Linked DNA regions of Homo sapiens: all the other regions are linked to region 3. Evidence: fine-mapped expression QTL. A gene starts in region 3. Each other region holds a variant in brackets. All regions are shown on one strand. Distances are from middle to middle.

What was found. PIP is the estimated chance that this variant, and not a neighbour inherited with it, causes the effect.
Region 1: its variant is fine-mapped to the expression of SEMA6A in fibroblasts (GTEx, PIP 0.95).
Region 2: its variant is fine-mapped to the expression of SEMA6A in testis (GTEx, PIP 0.92).

What each region holds. Positions count from the first base shown.
Region 1 is chr5:116,165,660-116,173,659 of GRCh38, forward strand. The region is part of intron 5 of COMMD10 (COMM domain containing 10); the gene reads left to right. Among named protein-coding and RNA genes, the nearest start is that of COMMD10, 85 kb to the left of the region's middle. The variant T/C (reference allele first, on the strand shown) is at 3,919.
Region 2 is chr5:116,458,562-116,466,835 of GRCh38, forward strand. The region is part of intron 18 of SEMA6A (semaphorin 6A); the gene reads right to left. The region is part of intron 2 of SEMA6A-AS1 (SEMA6A antisense RNA 1); the gene reads left to right. Among named protein-coding and RNA genes, the nearest start is that of SEMA6A-AS1, 15 kb to the left of the region's middle. The variant G/A (reference allele first, on the strand shown) is at 4,457.
Region 3 is chr5:116,569,774-116,578,047 of GRCh38, forward strand. SEMA6A (semaphorin 6A) reads right to left here and starts at 5,050. Exons shown (of 19, transcript NM_020796.5): 1 at 4,412-5,050. It overlaps SEMA6A-AS2 (SEMA6A antisense RNA 2), which reads left to right and starts at 4,645. Exons shown (of 3, transcript NR_147170.1): 1 at 4,645-4,766. RefSeq lists enhancers at 2,327-3,108, 7,746-8,274 and a silencer at 4,806-4,885.

The DNA.
Region 1 (8,000 bases), 400 kb before region 3:
TAGAGAGTGAGCTCTCTGGTGTCTCTTATTGTTTCTTTTTCTTTTTTCTTACCTTGTTATTTTCTAATCTAGTCTTCAGAGAGATGGTGTCTCTTCTTATAAAGGCACTCATCCTAACAGATCAGTGCTGTACCCTTGTGACCTAATTTAACCTTAAATACTTCCTTAGAGGCCCCATCTCCAAATGCAACTACACTGCTGTTTAGGGCTATAACATGAATTTTGGGGTATACAAGAATTCAGTTAATAATACTTGATTACCCTTTATCTGCCCCTGAGAGGGTGGTTCATCTTACCCTTTTTTAGTCAAATCACATTTGGTAACATGAATTGAGGTGGGTCAGCTATGGTGGCAGACTCACTAAGAGTGTCATCCTCAACTATCCTGTATTGCTTGTGGCATACCTAGACATTCTATGGCCGAAAGAGCTTGCATGTTTAAATATTTCTATAGTTTTAGTCCTTGGCACATGGACTTGAGTCCATTTCTCTGTCAAATGGCGATAGTTGTTCCTCAGAGTTGTTACTGGTCATAATTTAAGGGAAAATATATTTTGAACCATAAGATGCAAAGATTGTTTTTTATAAAAATGTACAATGTTCCTTTTTCTATTATTTGTAGAGCTTAAGGACTTGAATCCAGATCTTCTAATTACAAGTATAAGACTCTAAGTAGCCAGACATACCCATTTTTTTCAGGATAATTGGAATTCTCCATAGACAAGCACTCTAGGGGAAGTTCTGGCAAGTTTTATTTGCACCATGTAATGCATTGAAATAAATTGTACCATCTAATAAATTGAAATGCTGTGCGTTTAGCCCTCAAGCTCTGTTAAGGGACAGACTGCCTCCTCAAGTGGGTCCCCGGCCCCCGTGCCTCCTGATGGGGTGACACCTCCCAGCAGGGGTTGACAGGCATCTCATACAGGAGAGCTCCAGCTGACATCTGGCGGGTGCTCCTCTGAGACGAAACTTCCAGAGGAAGGAACAGGCAGCAATCTTTGCTGTTTTGCAGCCTCCTCTGGTGATACCCAGGCAAACAGGGTCTGGAGTGGACCTCCAGCAAACTCCAGCAGACTTGCAGCAGAGGGGCCTGACTGTTAGAAAGAAAACTAACAAACAGAGAAAGGAATAGAATCAACATCAACAAAACGGACATCCACACAAAAACCCCATCCGAAGGTCACCAACATCAAAGACCAAAGGTAGATAAATCCATGAAGATGAGGAAAAAAACCAATGCAGAAAGGCTGAAAATTCCCTAAACCAGAATGCCCATTCTCCTCCAAAGGATCACAGTTCCTCACCAGCAAGGGAACATAACTGGTTGGAGAATGAGTTTGACGAATTGACAGAAGTGGGCTTCAGAAAATGGGTTATAACAAACTTCTCCGAGCTAAAGGAGCATGTTCTAATCCAATGCAGGGAAGCTAAGAACCTTGAAAAAAGGTTGCAGGAATTGCTAATTAAAATAACCAGTTTAGAGAAGAACATAAATGAGCTGATGGAGCTGAAAAACACAGCACAAGAACTTCATGCAGCCTACACAAGTGTCAATAGCTGAATCAAGCAGAAGTAAGGATATCAGATTGAATATCAACTTAATGAAGTAAAGCATGAAGGCAAGAATAGAGAAAAAAGAATGAAAAGGAATGAACAAAGCCTCCAGGAAATATGGGACTATGTGAAAAGACCAAACCTGTGTTTGATTGGTGTACCTGAAAGTGATGGGGAGAATGGAACCAAGTTGGAAAACACTCTTCAGGATGTTATCCAGAAGGACTTCCCCAACCTAGCAAGACAGGACAACATTCAAATTCAGGAAATACAGAGAACACCACAAAGATACTCCTCGAGAAGAGCAACCCCAAGACACATAATCATCAGATTCACCAAGGTGGACATGACGGAAAAAATGTTAAGGGCAGCCAGAGAGACAGGTCAGGGAAGCCCATCAGACTAACAGCGGATCTCTCGGCAGAAACCCTACAAGCCAGAAGAGAGTGGGGGCCAATATTCAACACTCTTAAAGAAAAGAATTTTCAACCCAGAATTTCCTATCCAACCTAGCTAAATTCCATAAGTGAAGGAGAAATAAAATCCTTTACAGACAACCAGATACTAAGGGATTTTGTTACCACCAGGGCTGCCTTACAAGAGCTCCTGAAGGAAACACTAAATATGGAAAGGAAAAACTGGTACCAGCCACTGCAAAAACATACAAAATTGTAAAGACCATCGACACTATGAAGAAACTGCATCAACTAACAGGCAAAATAACCAGCTACTGTCATAATAACAGGATCAAATTCACATGAAACAATAATTAAACTTAAATGTAAATGGACTAAATGCCCCAATTAAAAGACACACACTGGTAAATTGGATAGAGTCAAGACCCATTGGTGTGCTGTATTCAGGAGACCCATCTCGTGTGCAAAGACACACATAGGCTCAAAACAAATGGATGGAGGAATATTTACAAAGAAAATGGAAAGCAAAAAAAAAAAAAAAAGGGATTGCAGTCCTAGTGTCAGATAAAACAGACTTTAAAGCAACAAAGATCAAAAAAGACAAAGAAGGGCATTACATAATGATAAAGGGATCAGTGCAACAAGAAGAGCTAACTTTCTTAAATATATATGCACGCAATACAGGAGCACCCAGATTCATAAAGCAAGTTCTTAGAGACCTATGAAGAGACTTAGACTCACACACAATAATAGTGGGAGACTTTAACACCACACTTTCGATATTAGATCAATGGGACAAAAAATTAATAAGGATACTTAGGACTTGAACTCAGCGCTGGACCAAGCAGACCTAATAGACATCTACAGAACTCTCCACCCCAATCAACAGAGTATATATTCTTCTCAGCACTGCATCCCGCACTTATTCTAAAATTGACCACATAATTGGAAGTAAAACAGTCCTCAGCAAATGCAAAAGAATGGAAATCATAACAGACTCTCAGACCACAGTGCAATCAAATTAGAACTCAAGATTAAGAAACTCACTCAAAACCACACAAATACATGGAAACTGAACAACCTGCTGCTGAATGACTACTGGGTAAATAACGAAATGAAGGCAGAAATAAAAAGTTCTTTGAAACCAATGAGAACAAAGACACAATGTACCAGAATCTCTGGGACACAGCTAAAGCAGTGTGTAGAGGGAAATTTATAGCACTAACTGCCCACAGGAGAAAGCGGGAAAGATCTAAAATTGACACCTTACCATCACAGTTAAAAGAACCAGAGAAGCAGGAGCAAACAAATTCAAAAGCTAGCAGAAGACAAGAAATAACTAAGATCAGAGTAGAACGAAAGGAGATAGAGACATGAAAAACCAATTCAAAAAATAAATTCATTCAAAAAAAAATCAATGAATCCAGGAGCTGTTTTTCTGAAAAGAATTAACAAAATAGACCTCTAGCCACACTAATAAAGAAGAAAAGAGAGAAGAATTAAATAGACACAATAAAAAATGATAAAGGGGATATCACCACTGATCCCACAGAAATACAAACTACCATCAGAGAATACTATAAACACCTCTATACAAATAAACTAGAAAATCTGGAAGAAATGGATACATTCCTGTACACATACACCTCCCAAGACTAAACCAGGAATAAGATGAATCTCTGAATAGACCAATAACAAGTTCTGAAATTGAGTCAATAATTAATGGGCTACCAACCAAAAAAAAGCCCAGGACCACACAGATTCATAGCTGAATTCTACCAGAGATACAAAGAGGAGTTTCCTTCGGAAACTATTCTGAACAATAGAAAAAGAGGGACTCCTCCCTAATTCATTTAAGAGGCCAGCATTATCCTGATACCAAAACCTGGCAGAGACACAACAAAAAAAGAAAATGTCAGGCCAACATCCCTGATGAACATTGATG[T/C]GAAAATCCCAATAAAATACTGGCAAACTGAATCCAGCAGCATATCAAATAGCTTATCCACCATGATCAAGTCAGCTTCATCCCTGGGATGCAAGGCTGGTTCAACATATGCAAATGAATAAACGTGATCCATTGCGTAAACAGAACCAATGACAAAAACCACATTATTATCTCAATAGATGTAGAAAAGGCCTTCGATAAAATTCAGCACCTCTTCATGCTAAAAACACTCAATAAACTAGGTACTGATGGGACGTATCTCAAAATAATAAGAGCTATTTATGACATACCCACAGCCAATATCATACTGAATGGGCAAAAGCTGGAAGTATTTTCTTTGAAAACCGGCAGAAGACAGCGATGCCCTCTCTCACCACCCCTATTCATCATAGTATGGGAAGCCCTGGCCAGGGCAATCAGGGAAGAGAAAAAAATAAAGGGTATTCAAATAGGAAGAGAGGAAGTAAAATTGTCTCTTTTTGCAGATGACATGATTGTATATTTAGAAACCACATTGTCTCAGCCCAAAATCTCCTTAAGCTGATAAGCAACTTCAGCAAAGTCTCAGGATACAAAATCAGTGTGCACAAATCACAAGCATTCCTATACACCAATAATAGACAAACTGAGAGCCAAATCATGAGCAAACTCCCATTCACAATTGCTACAGAGAGAACAAAATATCTAGAAATACAACTTACAAGGGATGTGAAAGACCTCTTCAAGGGGAACTGCAAACAACTTCTCAAGGAAATGAGAGGACAGAAACAAATGAAAAACATTCTATGCTCATGCATAGGAAGAATCAATATCGTGAAAATGAAAATACTGCCCAAAGTAATTTGTAGATTCAGTGCCATCCCCATCAAGCTACCATTGAACTTCTTCACAGAATTAGAGGAAACTACTTTAAATTTCATGTGGAACCAAAAAAGAACCCGTATAGCCAAGACAATCCTAAGCAAAAAGAACAAAGCTGGAGGCATCACACTACCTAACTTAAAACTATACTACAAGGCTACAGTAACCAAAACAGCATGGTACTGGTACCAAAACAGATATATATACCAGTGGAACAGAACAGAGGCCTCAGAAATAATGCCACACATCTACAACCATCTGATCTTTGACAAACCTGACAAAAACAAGGAATGGGGAAAGGGTATTCTATTTAATAAATTATGTTAGGAAAACTGGCTAGCCATGTGCAGAAAACTGAAACTGGACCCCTTCCTTACACCTTATATAAAAATTAACTCAAGATGGATTAAAGACTTAAACATAAGACCTAAAACCATAAAAACCCTAGGAAAAAATCTTGGCAATGCCATTCAAGACATAGGCATGGGCCAAGATTTCATGGCTAAAACACCAAAAGCAATGGCAACAAAGGCCAAAATTGACAAATGGGATCTAATTAAACTAAAGAGCTTCTGCACAGCAAAAGAAACTATCATCAGAGTGAAAAGACTAGCTACAGAATGAGAAAAATTTTGCAATCTGTCCATCTGAGAAAGGTCTAATATCCAGAATCTACAAATAACTTAAATAAATTTACATGAAGAAAACTGCATCAAAAAATGGGCAAAGGATAGGAACAGACACTTCTTAAAAGAAGACATTTATGCAGCCAGCAGACATACGAAAAAAAGCTCATCATCAGTGGTCATTAGAGAAATGCAAATCAACATCACAATGAGATACCATCTCACGCCAGTTGGAATGGCGATCATTAAAAAGTCAGGAAACACCAGATGCTGGAGAGGGTGTGGAGAAATAGAAATGCTTTTACACTGTTGGTGGGAGTGTAAATTAGTTCAACCATTGTGGAAGACAGTGTGGCGATTCCTCAGGGATCTAGAACCAGAAATACCATTTGATACAGCAATCCCCTTACTGGGTATATACCCAGATGATTATAAATCATTCTACTATAAAGACACATGCACGTGTATGTTTATTGCAGCACAATTTACAATAGCAAAGACTTGGAACCAACCCAAATGCCCATCAATGATATACTGGATAAAGAAAATGTGGCACATATACACCATGGAATACTATTCAGCCATAAAAAAGGGTGAGTTTATGTCCTTTGCAGCATCATGGATGAAGCTGGAAACCATCATTCTGAGCAAAGTAACACAGGAACAGAAAACCAAAGACTGCATGCTCTCACTCATAAGGGGGAGTTGAACAGTGAGAACACATGGACACAGGGAGGGGAACATCACACACTGGGGCCTGTCACGGGTGTGGGGCTAGGGGAGGGATAACATTAGGAGAAATACCTAATGTAGATGACGGGTTGATGGTGCAACAAACCACCATGGCACGTGTATACCTATGTAACAAATCTGCATGTTCTGCACATGTATCCTAGAACTTAAATTATAATAAAAAAATCTGTCCGTTGTTTTGTGAATTATCATATTTAAACTCAGTTTCTGGTGGTTGATGTCCAAAATAAGATTTTGCTTAGTGGTATGTCCAGAGCTTACAGAAGAATAACCAAAGGCTGGAAAAATATATCTTTCAGCCCAGCAACTTTATTATAGTACATATGGTAAACTGTGTAGAATGTTAAGGAAACATCCCATATTGGCTTACCAGCTGCTATTTTTATGGCAAGATTTTATTTAATATGTAAGGCTGGAGGGAGGTGTGAGAGGAAAGTAAAGAAAAGCTTTGGATTATTAAAGGTGTGGGAAAGCTATTTACACTGCTTCAGGGATAAATAGGAGGGAAGGAGTACTCAGACAGAGGGAGCGAGTGATTATATGAAGAAAAATACTATGATGATACTAATTGTGTTTTGTAGGAATATGGATGCTGCCTCTTTGTCTCTAAATGTGCTACCCTGAATTACAAGTTACCTTTGGCTTTTTGATTCTACAAAATCATAGGAGCTCCCTGAAATCTGGAGCATTTGCTCAGACTATTGCTTTCTGTTATCTACCCTAGGTCGGAAATATTTAAGTGTTTTTTCTTCAGTCCTACAGAGTTTTAGTCTGATACTTTAGAAAACAGAACTGAGTTCCTATTCGAAAAGATTTACTCACAGTGTTTTGTGTTATAAAGTCATACTCCAGGGTATCTTTTAGAGCAACAGCCCTGAACCAGGCTAAGAGGCATGGAGAAGAGCAGCACAGGGCTTCTGAATCCTGGCTGTGCATAGATGTGGGTTAAAATTAAAATATTACTAACCTTTCCTCATCTGAGATAGTAAGATTTTGGAGCTTGAATTCTTCATGCTTTTTAATTACAAAAAATACGATGAAATTTCAGTGTTCTTGCAAAAATTTGACTAATACAAGAATTGACAATATGAGAGGATGTCTTTAATAATTTTATGTAACACAATCAGATCTTTAACTTTTGCTCATGTAAAGTTTATAAAATTTAAACTGCTTAAAATAATGGCAGTATTAGAATACTGAGATTCATAATAATGTAAATTAACACATATAACCCTTTTTTCTGTTTGTATATTATCTTTTAATATATAATGAAAATGTTTAGGTAGTAAATACTAAGGTTAAGGTAAAGTCATATAATCTTAATTCATCTAACAGCTGCCTGTTGTTTCATATTTATTCCATTTTTGAAGTAGTTTACAAATGAAAAAAATTGTATGAATGCCTTGGCATTAAACAGCAGTTCTTGGAAATCAGGAAATTCCTAAGTTATACTTCCTCTAGCAGTGATATATCAGCGTTATTTCTATGAGTTTAGTTATATTCAATTTTCCAGTTATATATACACCTTTAAAGTGTTATATAAGCCAATTTAAGCAAGTTAGTATTAGAGTAGAAGTGTAAACTTTGGAATTTCCTGATTTTTAACATTTTACTTTCTATGTTATTTTGGTGAACTGGATCATGCAACTTAATTTATACAGTTAGTATGAATATACTTACAAAGAGCTAGATTTTATTTTCAGCCATCACATTATGAATAGCTTTTTTTAAAAAAGACTATTTCATCCTCTATAATGAAGTACTTAGTGTTTGCCATTCACTTTTGGTAGCTTTTAATTTTTACCTCTTCAGCTATGATCTGAAGTCATTCCAAAAGTTATG
Region 2 (8,274 bases), 110 kb before region 3:
GTTCAAGTCTCCATAATCATAATTTAAGTCCTTCATTTTTTGAGAAAATGAATGTTAGGTTAAAAAATAAAAGGTTAGTGGTATCCCTAGAAAAGAAAACTCAAATACGGGTGTGCAAATTCAGGCAGGCAGAGAGATGAAACAGCTTTCTACATGGCTGACATTTAACTTTTTTTTTCCTGCTACCCTTTCCACAATAATCTCATCAAGACCTTAGATAAATTCAGCAAGTTGTCAAAAGGATACAAAATTAATTATATCAAATCTACATCTATGCCCACACTACTGAAAGAACAATTACAGCCTGCCACTTGGGCTTCTCGGCTCTGGACCCTCTCCCCCTGCACACGTTCAAACATGGAAACCCACATCATCCATTTGAGAGCCCAGCACCTGACTTGCTCACAATATCATTTTCCTCAGTCCCTCAAAGAAAAGACGGAGACTACATATAGATTCCTTTTCTCGTAGGTGACCAAGAAATATTAATATAGTAAAAATAAACAGTGGCATCCTGGATTATATTATTAATTAAGCCACCGTGCTCAGCTGAACCCCACTGTTTTAACTAAAGAGAGGAAGAAGTCCAAGTTTGGAGTTCAGCTTGCCTGGGGTTTTACCTAGGATAGAGCTAGATAGGCAAGAAGCATCTACCAGGAAAATGCCAGCGATGTGTAGTAACAGACACTTTAGATCCAAAATTGATGCAAAATTCCATTTCCCAAACTTATTGTGTACATGTAATTAATAACCTAATATGATTAAATGAACAATTTATTATATATGTATCACCTGTCAATCTTGCTATCTTTGTCTTTCCCCACTTCTACCCTCCTGTGGTCCCTTTCTTCCCAACGTCTACCTTCCCATCCTCCACTTCCTGTTGCTAAAGCCAAAACTCCTTGGCATGGCATTTAAGGTTCCAGGCTAGGATTTCAATCTCATTTCCCATTCTAGTCGTCCATACACTTAGTCACCACACACTCCTTGCCTCTTTATTATTACACTCTGTAATTTCACAGTGTGGTATCTTGGTCATGGACTTTATTCAGCTTGGAATGCCCTTCCTCCTGTGAAATCTAACTTTTCCTTCAAGACTTTGAAAGGTCTTTCCTGTGTCCCCCACTTGGAATTAGTTGTGCCACCCCTTAGACTCCCTTAGTACTCTCCCTCCCCCTCTTTCCTTGACTTCCCTTACTGTCAGACTTCACTCTGCCCCAGCATTTAGATCACCTTTGGGTATCCCTCACTAAACTGTAAGCTGTCTGAATATCAGGTTTATGTGAAATTCAAATTAGTATCTTCTGTAACACTCAGCATAAGGTTTACATATAGCACATGTTTGTTCAATTTCTGTTGAATGCAGGAAAAAAGAAACAAAGGAAAGGTTGCTGTCTTGCCTTTCTTTGAGATGAGATTGTCAGCATTATTAAACTATTATTTTTTAGTGCTTTCGGAATTCCAGTTCTACCCCTCCAAAGCCATGAAAATGATAAAAAAATAAAAATAAAAATAAAAAGGAGGGCAGCCATATAATTTAGGAAGGAAAAAGGAATACATATGGTTAACATAACAGCTGTTAAAATTTTGAGGTTAAGTAAAACATAAAAGAACCAATAGTTTTAACCATGCTCCTCTTTAAGAACAATTTGATTTCTGAGCCTTCCTTACTTGAAAGTGGCATTTGAAAGCCTGTTTTCAATAATAATCTTTAAATTACTCTTTATCACATTTCAAACACATATATAATATTTCATAGACATTCTCTGAACTCAAGTATGCTAAGAATATTTTTCGTGGAATAAGATTTTTTCTTAAACATATCAGAATATGGATTATTCTAGATTTCTAAGAGTTAAAGGCCAAATGTAATATATAAATTAGATCTTATATATTCACTGAGTAAGTTATCAGTGACATCTTCTATAGAATTGTCAGGTAGCAAAAAGTTTAAGTACTCTCAGTTAATTCGGATAAACAAAAATGTTTTAGTTAAAAGTATGTCCTATGCAATATTTGCGGTATATTTACACTAACAATTATTTAGTTTTGTTTCAATATTAAAAATATTATTCAGGTGTATCTGCAATTCAAATAAACTGAGCATCCTGTATTTTGCCTAGCAACCCTACTCTTCTTTTCCCAAACAGTGTGCTTTAAATGACTCCCACAAATATTCTTTAAACCCACCCAAACTTTCAGAGGTTAAAATTGTTAATCTCTTTTTTTTTTTTTTTTTTTTGAGACAAAGTCTCCCTCTGTCACCCAGGCTGGAATGCAGTGGCACGATCTCGGCTGACTGCAACCTCCACCTCCCTGGTTCAAGTAATTCCCTTGCCTCAGCTTCCCAAGTAGCTGAGATTACAGGCAGTTTAGAGTAATAAAAATGATGCTAAATCTTTACTCTCTAAAAATTAAACTTTTTAATCTCTAAAAGTTTAGAGCAATAAAAATTATGATAAATCTTTATGGGTCGTGTATAGCACAATTTATAAATAAAATACTGATGAACTAAATATTAAGAACTGTATTTTTCATAGTCAGCAACAATACCAGCTTATGTACCAAATTTCTTACGAACTTTGAAGATGCCTTTCCTCTAACCTTCAAAATCAGAAATAAGTGATCTCTAATTCAAAAGAGTTTTTGGAACCGTCACAATCAATTCACTATCTCTTCGCGTTCCTTGCCTCTGACCATGCACGTTCTACCTGACTCAGTTAATTTTCCATTGTTGAGTGGAAGTGAAAACCCTTACCCTCCCATTATTAGTACTCCCCAAGACAGGAGCCCTTTTTCTGAAGTCTCCTTGAAACTGCCTTGCTCTACTCTCACATTTAAAAACGACTGCAATAGGATCATTTTTACTAATAAAAGGAATGCAAATTAGTATGAGTTTTTTTTTTCTTGAAATAAAGCTTAGGCTTAAAAAAAATAAAAGCCTGAGTTTGCCAACACTCCCACAAAAATTTTAAATATGAGTCTTTTACCAAACATCCATCACTTTCCTCGTCTTCCTTGTCAGGTGATGTGTTATTGCTACAATATTGGTACTGAGGGAAAGAACTGAAGGAAAGGAGCTGAAAAACTGTTTCACAGTTCTATGTCCTTGATGTGTTCAGCCAAGTTGTCTTTACTTGTCTAATATATTTTTTTAAAGTCTGTGGTGTGTGGTTTTGGCATTTCACAAAGAGAATGTTGGTCATAAAGGCCTTTTGGTGTGCTTTTGTGTCTACCTGTGTTCCATCTGTCTGGTGTTTGATATTTCTTGGACAGGAACTACGTCTATCTCTAATACAGCCTCTTACTCTTTATTGGCATCCAAATTGCACCACAGAGCCAGTGATAAATTCTGCTTGAGACACCTCAGAAAATGTTTTTGTTAACGGTAATATTACTGAAGAAATGGCAGAGAAAATTAAGCCCAAGTTTAAGAGTCAGGAAAAGAGGAGAGGCCTATTTTTCTTCCTTTATTACTGTCATCAGGAATAATTTTCTCTGTCCATAAAATCACTTACATATGACTTGATAGGAGCCAAAAAATTACCTTCTGTGTTGGGAGAACCAGGGTGCTTTAAAATCCCAAATCCATTACATTTTAAGCATGGGAGAGTGTTAAAATGTAAGAGTAACCAGGGGGTAGGATCTATGATTAACTATACTCACCTAAAATGAGATTTCTCAGTCTGTTAATAAAGACAGCTGACACTGAAGGCTTGGAACTTAGAATAGGTAAAGTTTGAACGGGAGAAAAGGAGAAGGGTCAAGGGTAAGCTATTGCCAGGCCGGGCAACACTGTGTAGCACAAGAGTCCTTCTGGATATCAGCAAAATAGATGAAAAGTGGAAAGGCTTTTCATCAACTTTCCCTAGGCTACAATTTGAGTAATAACTAGCGGCAGACCACACTAGGGTGCTTGCTGCTGGTGTGGAGAAAAAACTTGCCAGATGCTTAACAAGCCTAGAGTGGCTAATTTCTTATTAGTCTAAATCCATGTTACTTTAAATTTCTATTTCATGAAACTTTCCATCCCCAAACACAAAGCTCAGTAGGTAGCAAAGAAATCAGAAGGGCACTGGATTGTATAATTACAACACTTGGAGTGACGCATGTATTCACTTGGTTTTGCAAGCCCAGCCAGGAGAGGGTATAGTGGTCATCAAACCTCATTCTTCCAAATGTCAGAACAAAGTTCTTGGTAATAGTTTAATCTTCCCTGGACTCCTTCAATTGCTACAGTACACAGTCACCTAAACTTTGGTCATTCAACTACCAATACTACAATTTTAGTCATAACAATGAATCTCACCTACCATATTATTTACTTAGTATTTTTATATCCCTCATAACTCCTGCATTATTTACTTAATATTCTATTTAAATTACCTTTAAAATGTATTTCAAAGGGAAACTTGATATCATTATCACAAATAAAAAAAAAGTGTCACTTTTCAAC[G/A]ATAAAATGTAACCAGTAAAACAAAAATTAACTTAAAGCAAAACAATGTTAATTCCAGCTAGATCCAGTTGGAAGACAAAGCCCCAGTGTAAACCCTATTCTCTCTTTGTCAAAAAGAGATAGTAGCAAGTTTAGGGAGTTGTTAATGAGAAAACACCAAACTGAGACTTTTCCTTTCACATAATCAAGAAGATAACGCAGAAGACTGAAAGAGCATTGAAAAGGGCATAAATTTCCACCACATGACTCAATACTCTTGAAGGCCATCACATCCCTGCCACCTAAATCATGCCATGTAAGGTGCTACTCATCTCCCTCGGAGGAAATACTGCTGTAGGCTACTGCAAATTTAAAGATTAAATAATTAACTATAAAGAGAATTATTGATAACATCTGTGATTTATAAAATTCCATTTAGGATTGTGAGATGTGGACAATACTAATCATCTTTATAGATCTTATGAATCTTACCGGAATATTATTTCCCAAACTAAAAACTGCTTATACAAATAGCTTGTACATTGATTAAAATATATTCAACATTTGCTATCCATTTTAGCTTATTCACTTAATCTCTAATTTAAATTCTGTTTCTGTAATACATCTTATTCTTGTCTTTAATGTGCATATTTTCTGGACTAAATGTAATAATGTGATAATATCTCACTTTAAAGATTTCCCAAAAGATAGAAGCATACTACAACTCTGGCATTTCTGATTAAATGGGAACTGCTCTATATTTACTATTTTGTCTGTTTTCTGAGAGCTCACAAGAACTCTTTATTATAAAATAAAGTCTGAAGTAGGGGATTTTTATTCTATTCAGGATATATTCTTGTGTCCTCATAGCAGTGGTCAGCATTTACATTTTATGTGTATGCTACACAGCTCTCTTGGCTGCTCTGGATGTGGCTGATTTCCTTACATACCTCATAGACTTCTTGGAAATCAGCTTTAAAGTATTGTTACTTTTGGTAAGGAATAAGAGGCACAAGAATAGCTATTTGTTCTCAGTATTGTTTAACCTAAAAAAGAAAGCTCTTATTTCTTTTGCTGTGGGAAGCGGTGGTGGAGAATAAGCCAGATCTAAAAATAAACTGGATTTTCTTTCTTATTTATATGTGATTAGAGCCCCTTTGTAACTACCCATTACGACCTCAATAGTTATAGGAGGAATAAATAATATGTATTTTTTAATGTGGCAAAACCAAGACAGAAGTAGTCAGGGCTGCATCTCATTTATCAACTTGGTGATTAAAGGGCTCGCTCTAGAGGCTCCAGACATCTAGAGAACCAGAGATAAAACAGAGCAGTTGGCTGTGTTTTTACTAATGAATCCAGGGCTTGAAAGATATCAGGCAATTTTAAAGAAAAGCAGCAAGGACAAGAGACATTAGACAAGGCCAGTAGGGTAATGAAGGGCAAGGCCAGTTACTGAGAGAGAAAATTACTTCATTTTCTATGATAATGCTTCCGCGTGCTGTGCAGGTCTCTTCTCACGCTTTGTTAGTATGACTGTATATACATACAGCATCAGAATGCTACTCACGGTGTAGAAGGAAAGAGCCTTGGAACATTCCACAGAGGGGCAGAGGGTTTGGGTCTGTTATTTTGAAAGGGGGAGGCTAAGAACAATGGTAGCAGAAGGGGGTTAGGCTGCAAGGTGAGGAAGGGTGTTTCGACAGAATGTGAGGGACGCACAGGATTAAATCAAGACGAAAGACATAGCAAGGAAAAGAAAGAAAAACGCAGCAAACATACTCTGGAAATGGAGAATTGTTTGGAGGATGAAGTGGACAAAGAATGGGACCAGCTCACTGGCAGTCAGCATATCTGCAGAGTAGAGCCATGGGCATGCCTTGCTCACTGGCATTTTTACCAGTGGCCAAAATAAAATGGGCAATGGACACTTGACTCCTCAGTGAGCTGGTCAGCGGGCACATTTTCTGCTTAGTGAGGAAATGTGATGGATTTTAGAAACAATTCCAGAGTATATTTAGCTCCTAAAGCTGGGGCACACAAATGTCACATTCTCATGAGACAATCGACCCAGTAGAAAGAGCACCCGTCACAGGCCCTTAGAAAACCCATGAAACTCTTGCATCCCGGGAGATGCTGCATACACGGATGTGACATCATTAAGGCACCGACATCAGGGAATGAAAAGAAGCGAGGGCATCACAGATTCGTTCAAGTTAAGGGACGCCATCATGAGTCAGAAAAGGAACAAGACTTTTCCAACGGAGTAACGCCATCACTAAGTCATAACACAGTGCTTGGCAAAATGAAACAAAAGTTGAAAATAAATCATGAACATTAAACAAAAAACAATTTGGAGCAAAATGGAAATTAAAATCATAAAAACTATGATAAAAGGAACATTAAGCTACATCTTTTCTTTAAAATTTCTGCACAACAACTCATTGGCATTGCCCCATCAAACATACAACCAATCACAGAAAAGAAACTCAAATTTGACAGGGCAAGGCAAGGAGTTACTAGCACAAGAACAGTGATCATGTTAAACACCCATGCAGTCACCTCTGCCACCATTGTTTGACAATATGTAGACTGCTTCCAGCTTTGTCAGTATAATAAGACCCAAGAGAATGAACAATGCCGAATTTTAAAATGATGTGTCAAAGTGTTAAATGGACTTTTTGAGAACCTCCATTCCTTGGGGGGAGTTAACGATTAGAGAAAATTCACGCTACCCCTCTCAGTGAAATGAAAAGAAAATTACTGCAACCAACAGCTAGATATTTAGTTGGCATATTTAATGCTTTATTGGAAAGGCTGTTTTATTTTGTTTCAGAAAAAACGCAGTGGGCAAAAACAAAGTGATTTCTACTGAGTTTTCTCTTCTTGAGAATACAGTCAGGACTAGCACATCTGAGGTCAGGAGCCACACATAACAAATAATGGCATATGCTAAGGCTTGTAATCTGTCCGGACAGTTTCTCTTCTACCTGGAGCTTTCTCGGGATGGAAAGAGCAGGGAATCCCTCAAACTGAAAGAAGGAGATGAGACAAAACCAGCTTAAAAAAAAAAAAAAAAAAAAAAAAGATTTGGCCGGGAGCAGCAGCTCAAGCCTGTAATCCCAGCACTTTGGGAAGCCGAGGCGGGTGGATCACCTGAGGTCAGGAGTTCAAGACCAGCCTGGCCAACATGGCAAAACCCTGTCACTACTAAAAAAAAAAAATACAAAAATTAGCCGGGCATGGTGGCGGGCACCTATAATCCCAGCTACTTGGGAAGCTGAGGCAGGGAGAATCTCTTCAACTTGGGAGGCGGAGGTTGCAGTGAGCTGAGATCGCACCACTGCACTCCAGCGTAGGCAACAGAGTAAGACTCCATCTCAAAAAAAAAAAAAAAAAGATTTGAGTCAGGGCTTATTACTAAGAGGAAGTCTATAGAAGAAAATAAAATCAGTTAAGAGGACACGCTCAAGAACAAGACAAAAGGGGCTCCATCTTTATATTTTGACTTGGCAAATAGAGCAGCAGAGTGCCCAGCACTCTCAGGAGATGAGAAGCAAAAAAGCAGATGAAAATGTAGCCTGAGAGTCTGACCGGAAAGCATTGTCTAAAAGTGAAGATGGAGATATGTATGCAGAACACTCTGGGGGAGGGTGCAATAGCGACTGTCTTCCAAGGGTCACAGTGGCTGCTCTGCCCTTGAAACTCAAACTCCCGCTTGGATGAAACTCTTGAAAACATATAGAAGTAAACAATTCTGAATGGGGAGAAACAGCTCAGCAACATAACTGGGCTTTTCAGTCTCTGATTTACAAGACTGTTTTTTGGACAAGTAAAGG
Region 3 (8,274 bases):
AATGGAGTTGCCATTTACTATGATGGAGAAGACTATGAGAAAGGCAGATATGGGGGAGAAAGATACAGAATTAGGTTTTTTAAACCTAAGTTTGAGATGTCTATTCAGGAGGAGCTACCTACCCACTAAGCATTGGTTATTTGTGAGGTCCAGGAGAGAGGTCTAAGCTGAAGAGGTTATTTGGGAATCATCTGTGTATTATGGTTTTATATGATACCCTCTATTGGTGTAAATGGAATTATTGTAATAAAGTTTTGCAAGAGCTCATCTGTTTCACAAAGCAAGATACCCTTGTGTATAGACTATATGCAGTAGTCCCATGGTGAGAAGTTGTCCTGAACTCCTCCCCTTGAGGTTTGTGTGGTATGACATCTCATTTGCCCATTTCGAAGGGATTAAATGCCTCCCTCCTTTCTCTATCTTACCATATCCCCAAGAGGCAACCATGTGGTCGCCAGCAGAGAATAGCTCAGTTGCTCTTGCAGCACATTTTAAAGCAGATGAGAAAAGCCTTCACGCTGAAATAGAAATATCTCAGAGAAAACTTGGCTCCAAGGCACCCCAAGAGAGTGGGGGGGGTTCCTGATATGGGAGGGCCCAGCAGAACGCCTCAAGGCATCACCTTCCTCAACATGCACAAATGTGGCTGCCATAACACAAAGCTTCTATATAAATATGTCAAGGAGCACTCCTCTACTCTAGGAGGACAGAAAATTGTCTAAACCTAAAGAAGGGTGTGGAGAGGGGCAGTGCAGAGATAGGCTTTCCTAGGCATTGCCTTACACAAATGGCAGATGCTTAATTAAAGCATTTGCAATTAGCTTAGCTTGTTCTGTGATTCCTTCCTGCAAACAAATAAGATGGAGAGACTATATTAGCTCTTGGCAATCTAGTTCTAAAAAAACTTTCATCCCATCATCACTCTTTTGTCCTGTTCTGAAAAGCGCTGAACCACAATGTACACAGAATAAACTATCTGACTTAACTCCTGGTTCAAAATAGTATTTTTCCTTCCATTTCATATAGGAGTGCAACTACCCATTTACTTTTAAAGCATAACTACTTATTTTGAATTTAATACAAGTTCTTAATTTGGATGCCTCATTTTTATTTGGTGAAGATAACAGTCTTCCTAATTCTTGCTACACTTCTGATTCAACACATTAGACTTCACTAGTGCAATGTTACCCGCCTACTCAAAATACAACTGCTATATGTGTTTAATGTTGGAAAAAGCATTTACTAGATTTTGGAAGAACTTGAGGGGTGTGTGTTGTGTGTAAATAAAAAGGTGCACTTATTGCCGCCTTATCATAACCACTCACTTGAAGGCATATATTTTTTTTTTCACTGTAGGGAAAATAAAGAAGTCCACTTTAAGTGGACAAACATGAACCATGTGTGACTATTTATTTCATTCATTCGACATTTACTTGAGTGTTCTATACTGGTTCTTATAAAATTTTTACCTATTTAAGCTTAGTTGTTATGTCCAATAAGTATATTCAGCTGATGGCTCCTCAGAAATGATTTTCGGTATCTGCTTAACATTTACATATGTGGATTATATGCGTTATTGAAAATGTAGCACATCTCTAAAAGGTGATAGCTGCAAAACCTAACATATGGGGAAGGTTGTCACCCACAAACACTGTACATCAGAAACATAAAGTAGAATGCTTCTTTACATCAAGTTGAAAAATGACTCATAACCAAAAGTAAGATTTTAAATTTGATGTTCGTTCTTTTCTGCTTTAAACTGGTTTGCAAAGTGCCTCATTCAAGAACGTCCCAAAACCAAAATAATAACAGGGAGTAAGGGTTACTCAAGATTCAAATAAAAGTTACCATACAAACAAGCATGGGTAAACCAAATTCAAATAGCTAGTGCAATTATTTTTTAATAGATAGTTTAGGTTAATAGGTGGAGACATAGTTCTGCCACTGTATTTAAGGTTAGGTTAATAATTAACTTTGGTGCCTGGAGTAGTTTAATCAAAGCTTACTGTAAATCATAAAACTGCTCCATGTAGACTAAACACAGCATTAAAAAGTCATACAAAATTCTTGCAATCTTGACCGCTGGTAGCCATTTGGGTACGGTATAAAAAAGTGTAGAGTATTTTTAGTCAGAATTAAACATAGGCATCTTTACTTTGGGGAGAAAACATAATTAAATAATTAATTAAACCACCAGTCCTCCCCGCCATCACTGTAGCATACCACAGACTTGATGCCCAAGATGTGTCCACCAGGGGAAGGACGACGAACAATTTCAGGACTAAAGAAAGACAAGGCAAAGGCACTCGACCTTCCCATCCTGGCAAGACTTAAAAACCAGCGCTGGGGGGCATTAAATAGCTTTTCTGAGACCTGCTGGCACAACACTGCAAGTGGGTTAAACGGCTTTTCAGATCTGAGGTAAAGAAAGTTGTGCGTACAAGGGCGAGTGTGTGCGTGTGTGTGTCCATGCACGCCTGTGTTTTAAACCTTTCACAGATCGCATTCAGTAGCGTAAAAAAGCTGAGCGTAAAAAAAGGAGCGATCCCACTGTGGCTGTGCCTGGCCACCGCAGTTCCAAAGCAGCCACCTTTCTCCCAAAGACCGACGCGAAAAAGCCTGCAGGGCTCCCCAGTGCGATACAGGCCGGAGACTCCCTGGAAGTGCTTGCCCCGGCTGTGAAGACAGCGCCTCCAGTCTCCCATTCCTCTCCCGCTCCACGCACACCTGGCTCTGCTTCCTCCCTCCCTGGATAGCCACGCTGGGAAATCGTGCGCAGGGAGCAGATGGCTCGGGATTCTGCACCTGAAGCTGCCTACTTGCAAGCCACTGAGCCCCGGCCTGTGTCCACACGCACCTTCCCCACAGCCTCTGTCCACAGTGGCCGCACCTGCCTCCGGGGTCCTGCTTCCCCATTCATCCCTTCCCCGACTTGTCGAGCAAGTACCGCGGGCCAGGAGGTTCCACTCTCCAAAGGGCCGGGATCTAGCTCCTAGCTGCATCCCGAGCTGTCCGCATGATTCCCTCCAGGTCCGGCTTCCCTCAGACTGCACATGCTGAGCCCCAGTCCGGTCGTGCCTGCCGCCCCTGGCTTTCAGGGAAACTTTCCAGGAGCGCCTGGTCTAGTGACCCCGCCGCTGTAAAGTGGGAGGAGGCGCTGGGCGGAGGGGCGGCGAGGGAGCGGGAAAAACAGCGGAATTCTGTTTCCTTTCCCGACGTCCACAAGCCCGGGACCGCTCCCTGGCTCCCCCCGTGCCGCTCGGGTCTTGCGAGGAGGGAGGAGACCTCAGGATCCTGTTTTGCACCATCTCCCACAGCGAGGAGCTGAGCAAAACGCGGAGAATCGGGACAAGAGACACTTCCCGCCCCAGAAGGATCAGGCAGGGTGGGTGGGCACTGCCCGGCTTACTCTCCAGCGCCCCATTGCCCCCATGGTAGCGCCCTAGGACACAGTGAGGAGTCGGAACAGAGCCCTAGTCTGGGTTTCAAACCCAGGGCCATCTTCTGCCAGGTCTCTCACCCTTCCCCCTCCTGGGTCATCTTTCCAGAGCGAGACCGCGCTGATCTGGGAGGAGGGCGTACCGTGCGCCAGCCCGGTGCAAAGGGCTCGGTGCTTCAGGAGGGACGCAGCCGCGACGGGCTATATCCTTGCCGCTCGGGTTGGGAGCTGCGGCGGGGGACAGGACCCATGGCGGGGGCGCCGCGTCACCCGAACGGCTGCTCCCGGACACTTATTCGAGCAAACAAAGCCCGGAACCTCTGGTGGCAGCGGCCACAGGAGCCAGGATCTCACCGAGAGACAGGGCGCGCGGGTGCCTAGAGCCATTACAAGTTTCTTGCACTCCACGGAGCCCAGCCCAGACCCCACACTGACAACAAAAGATTCTCTCCGCTTCCACACCGTCTCCGCGGAACCCCTTCTCCCACCTGGCACTGGACGAAAACAGCGCTGTTATACCCAACCCCCTCCAGCCCTCGAGGGCAGAACCCCTTCCCCTGCCTTCGACACACCGGGCCAGGGAGCTTCCGAGAATCCCACCATTTAGGGCCCGCTCTGCTCCCTGCTGGGCACGCGGGAGGATGAGCCTTGGGTCTCGCACACACACCCCCAGGAGGAACAGCCATACGCGCCGTCGCGGCCCGGGGCGGCGCCGGGCGTGTGCGCAACGCGGGTGGGAAAGCTCTCGACGTGGAGCCGGACGCACTCTGGGGCGCAGGGCAGAGAGGAAAGGCAGGCAGGGCTCACGGCTGCTCCCCCAGGACCGGGCAAGGCTCGGGAAACAGAGACACAAGACAAAATAAAACGCAGGCACCACAAAGCCGACAGCACGCGCTAGCCACGGCCCCGGGACCCTCAGGCTGGAGTCCAGCTGCCCGGGAGGTGGGGCGCGCCCGGGCGCCCGGGGCGTACCTTTTCGGTGCATCGACGGACAGGCGGCCGGGGCTCGGAGCGAACTGGTACAGCGTGTATCCCATTTAGTAATCCATTATCGAGGGGATCTCTCCGGGCCGCGGGCTGCGCTCTCTCCTTCGCAAGCCTTTGTCATTCCTACATGTGTGCTTGTCTCTTTGGGGGAAATAGTCGCGGCGACTACTTTCTGGGATGCAAACGCGATGTGTTCATCTCCAATGACGAGCGGAGAAGGGGAGAGGAAAAAAGAAGCCAAAAAAAAAAAGAAGAAAAAGAAAAAGAAAACCAACAAGGAAGAGGGTAAATGTTCAAGAAACTCTTCTCCAAATCCAAATTCCACTTGGATTCCACTTCGGTGAGTCCCCTTGGTGGTGTCTGCGCCGATTAACAAGTCATTTCAGGGCGGGGGGCGGGGTGGGGGCTGGGGCAGGGGTGCAAGGCTCTGGCCCGGCTCTGCGGCCGGCAGCGCGGTGCCGCGGGTGTGGTGATGCTGGCCGCTGCTACACGCTGCTAAGCGGGCATCGCGGGCGACCGGCACCGCGGAGGAGCGCCGCTGCTGGGTTCCGAGCGCCTGGGCAGCCGAGTGCGCGGGGAGCGGAGTTGGCTGCAGCCTCACCCCGTGCCGCTCACTACTCCTCTGTCACCGGAGAGGCCGCCGCTCCCGGGCGGAGCCAAGTCCCGGACTGGATTGCGCAGATCGGACTCTCCTTCCGCAACTCCGCCTACTTTGGCTGGCGTCTCCTCCGACCCAAAGGAGAGCTGTGGTGTATGTGAGTGCGAGTGAGCGAGGCAGAGGCGGAGAAACTACGCGGTGTGGCTGCAGGTGGAGCCTTGGACCAACTGGCCAGCGCCGCTTCCTTCCACCAGGATTCCTGGCCCCACCGCGCGCTAGGCGGAGGCTCAGCGGGGGCGACTCTGGCTGGAGCCCAGCCCTCACCTCCCCCACCCCCACATCTGCTCTAGCTAGGAAAAAAAAAAAGAAAAAAAAAATCCCGGACAGCATTGCTGAGTCCTGCCAAATCAGAAAAATAAATAAAAATAGACGTAGTGCAGGAGCGAGTTACAAGAAAGGTTTTGTTCATCGATTTTCTTAAATGGAAAAGTTTTAAAGGATGAGGGTAAGTGAACGGCGAGCTTTTCTGATTCTGATTACTGTTATCAAGAGGTAGATTCCAGAAGCGATGGACGCTCTACGTAGTTAGATGAATTGGATAGAAGCCGGTGCGGTTAAAAATACACTTGGAAGATAAGAACACAGCTATTAATTACGCACATACACACGTTAATAAAGCATGTGAAGTAAGCAAATAAACTACAGTGCAGAGAATGGCGTTTTTAACGACGGCGATCTATTTTAAAACTTAATGAAGTTCACATTTTGTGGACTGGTCTTAGAAATAAGTAAACTTCAGAAATAACACGCATACAATTCCAGTGAGAACCCAAAAGGTTTATGGAAGAAGAAAATCGCAACCACTTCCAAGGCGCTATTGTTATGATCACATGAAGAATGGCAGGCACAGCCTTCTTTCACCACTTGAACTTTCAATAGCTACAAAGTCTTGCAGTTACAGGCTTGTGCCAACTCGTCGGGCCACACCACGTTCCCCTCCCCCTGCCGCTGCGCCCCGAAATCAACTGCGCGCCGCGGCTCTTGCTCCCCAAGGGGGCTTCGCAGATGGTACGGATCCTAGTCGCAACCTTTAAACAAAGTAACATCGGGCGGCCCAGCAGTTCTCGGAGAGATATTTACTAGTCATGGAGTTGGCTGAGAAAAGCAAGTGCGGAGATCGGGGTCTCAGTCCCACTTAGGCCGAGTTTCTTTATATTGGAAACTGTACCTGTTCCCTAATTGGGACTAAGACCACTAATAAGTCCACGTTCCCTCTTTGGTCGCTTCTCTAAGTACAGACATCTGCTTAAGAGGCTTCACGAAGAATAAATGCACATGGGTCAACACCCATTCCCCCCGCACCACTACCACCACCTGGAAAAGGTAGGGAGAATGGTAGGAAAAAAAGAAAAAATCAGTACCCCTGCTGTTCTCCAGAGCTGTCAGCAGGGGCCGCTATCCCCACCTTTCTCGGGCAAAGGCCTCTATAGACCTGGGGTAGTGGGGGGCGCGGCCCTAGGTGCGCGCGCAGCCCCCGCGGCTTCAAGAGCCAGCCTCGGGAGGGGGTTGGGGAGTGTGGGGCGGTGGGTAGGATTGCGCTTTCCCGCGGGTTGGGTGGGGGCCGGCTCCAGGACGTCTCCTCAGAATCCCGCGGGGTTAGGAGAAGGATCTGGCGGCCAAGACGGCTGGATCCCCGGCTGCGCTATTTAACACCCAGATTTTGGCTGATGACTGCAGGGTCAGTGTGAGCTGGTCCCCTGGCTCGTCCGTGCGCCCCAGGCGCGGTACTGCAGCCCCTTCGAAGCTCCGGACCCTTCGGCCTCCGGGGTTTTTTGTCCCGCGCTCCACCCAACCGGGGTCGCCGAGGCTCCTTCTTCGCTCCCCGCCGCCGATTTACATGCTAATTGTGTCTGGGAAAAGTTCTTAAATTGGCAGAATTAGGCAGAGCAAACGAATTGTTTCACAGGCCGAACTAAATTAATTTCGGGTTTAGCTCCTTCCCTTAGAGAAACAAACAATTAAGTTGTTTTATTTGCTTTATGGATATATTGGAAATGCCCCACAACGAGTTTCAGGATATTGTTTAAAGGGACATTATATTCAATATTAATACTTGCATGTTTAATTTGTAGTAACGCTGAGCCAAGAAGCGAGCGATTAAATTTACCTAATTTAAAATTATAGAATACGAGAGTTAAAGAATTGGAGTCTACTTTTCACAGTGAAGAAATACCACCCAGAATCTTCCTGGCAATTACTAGATCCTAGTCTCACCATCCAAGTAGGAGCCCTTCCTTCTGACCACGTGATATTACATTTCCACCTGCCAGAAAAGATGCTCCCGGAGCTGGAAGAAAAGCCAGCTATTGTCAGGCTCCCGAAACCCCCAGGGGAGCACCTGTGGGGAAGCCAGGCTATGAAACCTCATGATGTCATTTCCCCATAAGTGCGCCTCAGACTCACTTCCAGAAGCCTGCAGTAAGTTTTCAGTAAAACCACTGCCCCTTCAAAGCCTTTGAAGTCTGCAATTTATACCCTGTCCCTTCAGGAAAAGAAAGCCAAAGAGTTAAAGAATCACAGAGTGATGAGAAGGTGACTTCAGTGGTTTTTTTTAAAGTGACGTAAAATGGAGTGTTTGAGGCCCTGGTCTCTGGAGGCCATCTGCGGTTAATGTAACTTAGCTGGTGATCTTGGGCAAGTCACTTATCTCTGTGAAGTCCCAGTGGATTCACCTGTAAATGGGGATTCTTATTCTACTCACTTCCCGAGGAGCTCGTGGATTACATTAGATGATCTTCGTAAATTCGGAGTCTAAGGCTGACACTGCTTTATAAAGATTAAGTGTCACATTGTCATCCTTGCCATCCTCCACATCAGTCCTACCATCACATTTTACAGGAGTCACATGGAAGCACAGCGGACAGAAGTGGCTTGACCTGTGTCAGCGATTGGGTCAGGGCTGGGAGCTACCTGTAACAACTCCCCCTCCCCTTCTTCTTCTTTTTTTTTTTTTCAATTTTTGAGACGGAGTCTTGCTCTGTTGCCCAGGCTGGAGTGCAGTGGCGCAATCTCAGCTCACTGCAAGCTCCGCTTCCCGGGTTCACGCCATTCTCTCTCCTCAGCCTCCCGAGTAGCTGGGACCACAGGTGCCTGCCACCACGCCTGGCTAATTTTTTTGTATTTTTAGTAGAGATGGGGTTTCACCGTGTTAGCCAGGATGGTCTCGATGTCCTGACCTCGTGATCCGCCC